Homo sapiens: one gene and its partner. The protein of the gene in region 2 purifies or fractionates together with the protein of the main gene of each other region. This does not show direct contact. Each region holds a gene or a part of one and is shown on either strand. Other genes may lie near its edges.

What was found. The genes of interacting proteins can lie anywhere in the genome.
Region 1: the proteins of DPH6 (region 2) and NPTN purify together in Homo sapiens (co-immunoprecipitation; 2 studies listed by BioGRID and IntAct, with this or other methods). This does not show direct contact.

What each region holds. Positions count from the first base shown.
Region 1 is NC_000015.10:73,598,744-73,602,496, forward strand, and holds part of NPTN (neuroplastin isoform b precursor), read right to left. Parts: intron 1-3,753. UniProt on the Homo sapiens protein: Probable homophilic and heterophilic cell adhesion molecule involved in long term potentiation at hippocampal excitatory synapses through activation of p38MAPK. May also regulate neurite outgrowth by activating the FGFR1 signaling pathway.
Region 2 is NC_000015.10:35,539,531-35,543,283, forward strand, and holds part of DPH6 (diphthine--ammonia ligase), read right to left. Parts: intron 2,978-3,753; coding exon 2,883-2,977; intron 1-2,882. UniProt on the Homo sapiens protein: Amidase that may catalyze the last step of diphthamide biosynthesis using ammonium and ATP. Diphthamide biosynthesis consists in the conversion of an L-histidine residue in the translation elongation factor (EEF2) to diphthamide.

The DNA of each region.
Region 1 (3,753 bases), about 38 Mb from region 2:
TCAAATTAAGAACATTCCAGAGGAAAGGATGAAATAAATGGAACTGTTTTCCTACAGTCCAGAAGCCAAGGATGTTAACAGGGCTAGCTGAAAATGGAGGTTACTAAGTGGAAAAATTCCTGTTTACATCCATAGCAGTATTTGCCTTTGGTGATAACCCCACACCATGGACTAAGAACATTAATGGAGGTACTATACTTACTCAAGTAGAGGCCAAGACCTCCAAATTCATACTAGTCTTTCAATTCCTGACATTTTCAGACTCTGGGGAGCACAGGAATGCAGTGATTAACAGGCTTAGACTAAACGTTCTGCCTTTAATATGCCATTTTAAACTACCTCTTCAGATCCAGCATGCATTCCTTGTAAGGAAATATCTACCAGAGGCCCCAAGAAGCCCAACAGATGTCATTCTCAGATGCAGGAGAAGCTTTAGAATTACAGAAAGGAGCCCCCAAGCCCCTGCATGAAGAGCTGAGCTCACTGCCCAATAAAGTGGTATCCAAGGAGCCATGTCTCGGTCTCACAAACTACCACCTGCCCACCTGTCAAAGTCAATGCCAGCTAATATAAACAAAGAAGTAAAGGAGGGCCGGGCGTGATGGTTCACACCTGTAATTCCAGCACTTTGGGAGGCTGAGGCGGGAGGATCATGAGGTCAGGAGTTCAAGACCAGCCTGGCCAGTATGGTGAAACCCCGTCTCTACTATAAACACAAAAATTAGTTGGGCATGGTGGTGCTCACCTGTAGTCCCAGGTACTCGGGAGGCTGAGACAGAAGAATCACTTGAACCCAGGAGGCGGAGGTTGCAGTGAGCCAAGATCGTGCCACTGTACTCTGCCCTGGGCGACAGAGCGAGACTCCGTCAAAAAAAAAAAAAGAAAGAAAGAAAGAAAGAAAAGGAAGGGAGGGAGGGAGGGGAAGTAAAGGAAGTTGGTTTTATTTATTTTACTACTGGCTCAATCACCAGAGAAAACTGGATATCAGTAAATCCCTGAAATGCAGTAAAAGTATTATTCTGTTTTAATCATATTCTTGACCATAAGTGGTAATCACAAATGGTCTTATCACATTATCTGTGAACTTGGGGAGTTACAGCCTCTCAAATGCGGTAATTATGTACTCGATTATGCCCTAGAACTGTTAGTGGATTTCTTTTGTACTTTTTCCCTTCTTCTGTATTGTACTTCAAAGCAGCCTTAGACTTAAGCCTGTTTATCAATCTGTTGACAATGCTAATGTAAAAAAGATGCCTGAAAGTATCCTTTCACCAAGAATCCATCCAATTCCACTGTAACCCCAAGTCCTAATAACACACAAGTCACAGGTAGCTGAGAAACAGTCTGACTATGATTCCCACTGCACACAACTGGGCGAGTCACTCAGCCAGATCATGCCACCCTGGGCAAGACTTCCTGCTAAGAGTAAGGAATGCTGATCTGAGTCAGTTCAATTTTCTACCTGTATCAAGGAAAATGGGACCAAGACAAAAATGTTCTTTGCATTAGTAAATTATAGGATGTATATTTAAATGAACTTTTAAAACACAAGATAAAAAACCCTTTAAAATGCCAACAATGGTCTTTGAAGGCCATTATTGTTATTACCATTATTAGACATATAGAGTAACAGTGACATTTTCTAAGTATGCATTATATGTTTAGGCAATGTGCTAAGCACTTTATTCATTATCATATTCAAAATTCATTTATTCATTATGATAAGTGCCATTATAATTTTTCTTAAAGATGTGGAAACTAACGTCCAAAAAAGTTAAATATTTTGCCCACGGTCACAAGCTAATAACAAAGAGTCTGGCCTGGAATCCAAAGTGAAAGCATGGTCTCTTAACACTTACCACAACTGTGGTCAATGTGTCTCACTGGCCTGAAAAGGTTTTTGTAGTTACTTAAGTTAAAGATATGCTTTGTCACCACTTAGTTTAATTAATAAATTAATTAATAATAATTCCTGGCCACAAAAAGCCAGGAACCTTTGACCAATTGTGCAACATACTATGATCACTAACTCCATAAAATTATAATCTTACTAGAGAATGGAGATAGAGAAGCACTGGGTCAAAGAGTTCTTAAAGCAACTGGGGGGAGGGTGAACAGTGTGAAAAGATAAGATGATTCTGAGGCAAGACTGCCTCTAGTTCTGATGATTCCAATGCCCTGCTCTGGAGAAGGCTGGCTTCAGAGAAGGAAGGAATTTACAAGACACTGGAAAAATTTCTCTGATGCTGTAGTCAGGAGCCAAATTAATAAAGGGCAGCACCTGAAAGTTTTATAAAACTCCGCAGTTTGCAAAGAGCTTCCACATACATCACATCTCATTTCATTCGCACAGTTCCACAAGGTTCATACATAGGGCAGGTGCGGAGACAGGTTTATGACTTGCCCAAAATCACTTAGGCAGTTAATCCTGAGTGGGGCTGGGACTAGAATGCAGGTCTTAGCTTAGTCTAGGGTTCTTTCCAATAAACTGTGCTGCCTCTAAACAAACTAAGGAATTCCTTGATAGCTGAACACTCATCAAAAACCATGAAAAGAGATCTATTCCCCCTCCAAACAGCATGGAAAAGAAAGAAAAGAAAAAGAAAAAGAGAAAAGAGAAAAGAACCCTCTTTACAAAGTACTGTGAAATCACAATTAGCAAGGGAAAGTTATTAGCAACCATCCACCTTATTATCCATCCAAAATTAGCTTCAATTCAGGAAAAGAACTGGCTCTCAGCAGCAGCAGCAGGAGGTTCAGAGCCTGACTCACTGCCCTGCCTTTCATTACTAAGGGCTTTCAAACAAATATGTACCTTCAACAAGAAAGCACACACTGCCTAAAGTTGGGAGGCCAACAGAAGCATCTGTTTGCTCTCTAGGTCAAGGGTCATCCAATATTTTGGAAAAACCCTAAATTTTGTAAGACAACCTCCTACCCCACCCTCTTCCCCACCATCGTCTCCACCCACTATCTTAAGTGACTGGGCCCAGATCTGCAAGAGTTTTGGGAAAGTATTAATATCAGTGCATTCAGAGCAACAGTGATAAAGAGGGAAACTGAACAGTGGTTACTGGCTTTGAGGGAGGAAGAGACTAGAAGCTGATGCTGGAGGGGGTAGCAGGCAGAGCATTAAAAATGGAGGCAGCAAACCCAAGAGAAGCGTAATGTAAAATTGCATAACTGGGGATGGGGGATGGGAGGCAAAGATGACAGCTGGGACTAGCAGCCGGAGAAAAGGAGGAGCTTGCTGGCAGGAAAAACTGGATGTGTGGATATGTAGCAGAGGGTGAGAAGAAAAAGGAAACACAGAAGAGCAAGTTGAGCCCAATCCCAGGAAAACTGCTTTCATATATGCCCTAAGGAAGTAAAAAAAGCTAGCCTAGCCCTATATAGGAGAGACTATCATGATTTTTCACATTTACCTCCAGGGCAACCCACAGAACAAGAAATCAGACTAACTTTCTCTCTCCCTCAACTGACTACTGCCAAGGCCAGGCCTTTAAGTCTTGCCTGCTTTTGTCACCTCTTTTAAAAACAGCTGTTCCCTTCAAACCCCCTCTACCTCTAATTCCCTGTGGCTGGCTCATGCTGTTCTCTCCTTCGTTCCTCGCAATAAAGAGAAAATGACAGCCAAGATCATAAGAGCGTTTCTCTCCTCTGTCTCTCTCACACACACACAAATTCAAATCGTCTACCTCAAAATAAAGACTGAGCAAGACCCACTGACATCTAAACGTGAATACAGGAACT
Region 2 (3,753 bases):
TATGAACTATCTCTCAAATTTATCTACCCACAGAACACGTAAATTTAATGGGGGTATTTGTGTTCTAAAGACATATGGGAAATGCTATCGTAGAATAATATTTAATGACATGGAAAATGTTCACAAAATGCTATTAAAAAAATTACAAAGTAGTTATTTTGACATATACCTATGTGTGTATGTATGAATATAAGCCAAACAGGTCCAGGCTTTCCATTAAATGTGAAAACTTCCTATCAAAAGGAATGAAAAGTGATAGTGCAAGGGCCCCTTCAACAATCAAAATCATCAAAATCTGCTACCCCATTTTGGCTGACAGGTTTCTGAACTCACACATTGTTAGATTGGCTTCCTTCAGAATATTACTCACATTGTTACTATAAATGTTTCCACTCCTGGTCCCAGTAGGAAGTAGAGAACATAGCCAAAGTTACCTAAAAACCTTTCGGCCTTCTCTCGTCTCAAAATTAGACTGGATCTTTAAATACATTCATTTTAAAGGATATTGATACAATCAAACCAATTTACTCAAAGAAATTTGGGCTTCTTGGCAAGAAACATTCTGATGTTAGCATAATAAGTAAAACATCTCACTGGCTTCAAAAACCTAGAAGATAATTTTCTTTAAGGCTCTATTTAGTCCTAACCACATTGTAACTTTGATTAATGGAAGCTACAGAGCAACAATAGTGTGAGATCAAATAAAACCAAAGGCTCCCCTGTTGCCTGAAGCAACTCAATTAACATGCCACAAAAGTTCCTACTACAAATCTAAAGAGATGGTTTTGTGAATTTTATGACAAGTTCGCATTATCCTCATTGATGGGAATAAATTCCTTTTCACACCACCCATTGAAAACCCGTAACTTTGCTGGACATTGGAGTCATCTCTACCAGTCATTCCTCACTAAGGTTTCTTTCATAACACTCATAGGAAAATAAGTCATTCAGTGAATTGTTCAATAATTCCCAATGTCCTGCTGATTTTCATCAAGATGAGCTAAACCATCTCCATCTACCAACCCACAGCCATCTGTTTTCTTCTACAACAATTACTATTGTTTCGACTGCCTTTTCCAGGCTTTTTACTTCAGAATATTCTAATTCTATTTACTATCAAATTTTTTCTCACTAACAATATTCTAAATAAGTGTCTCTATTCTACTGAGAGGTATAATTTAAAAATATACTTTGCTTGTCATTTTACCACCCTGCTGGTGAACCATGAACACAAGGAAGATTATATATTAATGGTTCTGTACTAGGTAAGTAAAATAATTCATGTGAAAGCTGAAAACAAGATAGAAACTCCAGTGATGAAATTATAATATACCATGTATGTATTATATACTATATAAACATCTGCTTTTTAACTTCACAAGATAGCTTGAAAGTCCCAGTTGCCTCCCCCTGGCCACAAGGGATAAGGGAGTTTCTCTCTTTTGGTAAACCTAACAGGAGATTCTGCTTCTTCTTTTATAATACAGAAGTTAGAGTGCAGTTCCTATTCATCCTCAAAGAATTTTCTCTTTCTTAAAGTTGGAACTCTTTCAAAAAACATCACTTCTAAAAAACCATCTGTTACTCATCAATTGCAGCACAAAATCCAAACATGTGCATTTACCTCTGACTCTCTGTGGGACCTTTCCATTTCTTCCTATAAAATATTTCTAAACTCTGTCTTTCCACACGACATCCAGCATTACTTACATCTTAATCACAGAAGGAAAGAAGATTCAAATATCTGACTGAAATAACTGCTCACTATTCCAGGGCTAATCCAAATTAGTTCATTATACACCTGTCCACCAATCAACCTTGCGTGAACTCCTACCAGAGGCATAGAGCCGGCCCAAGTGATGAGGAGCAATAAAAGGAAGATAGAAGATATGATCTCTCTTCTCAAGAAGCTTATAATCAATCCATTTAAAGATATAAAACAAGTATTTAGCTAGATTCCAATTCAGCTAAATTTACAGAATGCCTACTTCATGACAGGAACTACGACTGATGTTCTCACATACACCACTCATTTAATTAATCTTAAAATAACAGTGCAAAAACATGGAGCCTGGAAAGAAGTAAAAGAGAGAATAAAAAGATCTTACTAGAAAAGTCCTGTGAGAAGCAGTAATACAAAAGTCACAAAAGTGCTAATCTTTTTTCCCTCTTACATTTTAGCAGTTAATATCTGTAGTTTCATAGGTATAACACAATAGCATTAAAAAGCAAATTGGTGAATATATTTCTTTTTTCAAAAGCTATAATTGGGGATATTTCATTGGAGAAAAGAATGAAAAAAGTAGTCAATATGAGGTCTGTGAATTATATGTGGATGCCCTTGTTACTACAGACAAATGAAAAGTGGGAATGCATTGCTTTATGCTTCTCTCAAGTCTCACATTTCTGGCTTACATCTAAAATAGGTAAACTGTATCCTTTTAATAATAAAATTAATATATCATTTATCAATATGTGTCTTACTTCTCAAGCTCCTTGAGGCCTGAGACTGTATCTTATCTACCTCTATGCTGCCTACAGTACTTGGGAATGTGGTGGGGTAAAATGGTAGTGTACTTTGAAGTAAGAAGGTTCAAGTCTTAACTCTACAAGTTTGTGCTAGTTTACTTCAGACAAACTCTAAGCTTCAGGATCCCTGTCTATTAAGATTAATAGTGCATCTCTATAGAAGTTGGTTATGAGAATTAAAAAGTAAGTGAAAACACTTAATGCTAAGTTCTAGGTGGAAACTAGCATCTAATGGGTGCTTAATATTTATTGGTTCTTTTTTTTTCATCTTTGTACGGTATACCTGTACAATGTAATTATGAAGTTGGAATTTCATTCATTTAGGCAACTTCCCAATAAAGGCATGTACTTACCTTGGTTTTCAGCTGGTCTTAGATTTGCTAAAGCAACGATCTGATGCCCAGCAGCAATGCACTGCATCATATTATAGCAGCTGTCCTTCCCACCACTAAACAATAAATCAAGAGAGGGACAAATATCATGCTACTGACCATTATTCAACATAAAATCACTAGATATCAAAACAGAACATATCATTTACTTGACTCTTCAGAATATATTACAATGCAAAAAAAACCCATTAATTTCTAAATCATAAACAAACTGAGCAACCGAATCTGAATGTCTAGGGCTGCTACTCACAGGAGCTTAAGAAACTATATATATATAAGAATATTCTAAACAAAATATGGTAACTTTTTGCTTTGTGATAGCAAATATATTTGAAGTGATTTGCAAATAGAAAATGATTTCAATTTACATCCCAGCTAAACATTTATTATATAATTATATATGAAATATATATATTCTACCTAAGGAATATATATAATAATATATATTATTCCACTTAAGGAATATATATAATATATATTATTCCACTTAAGGAATATATATATATATATATATAAAATAATTTCATAGAAATTATTGGGAAAAAAAAAACTATTCTCTATGAGAAAGTAAAAAAAAAAACAAATTCTGCTCCACCATAAGAAATCTAACAAATGGCTACCATCAGCAATTAAAGGATCAAATTAAAGATTTGAGTACCTAGCTAATGACAAAGTTTGACACACTTGGTGGGTTCAAATTCTGCAGAGATAAAAAACAAGATGCTGACTTACACTGATGACGTGAAACATCAGCACTATCAGCACTTCAGCCATCTCTACACATACATATAGTACACACATACACATAATATATATATATATATATATATAT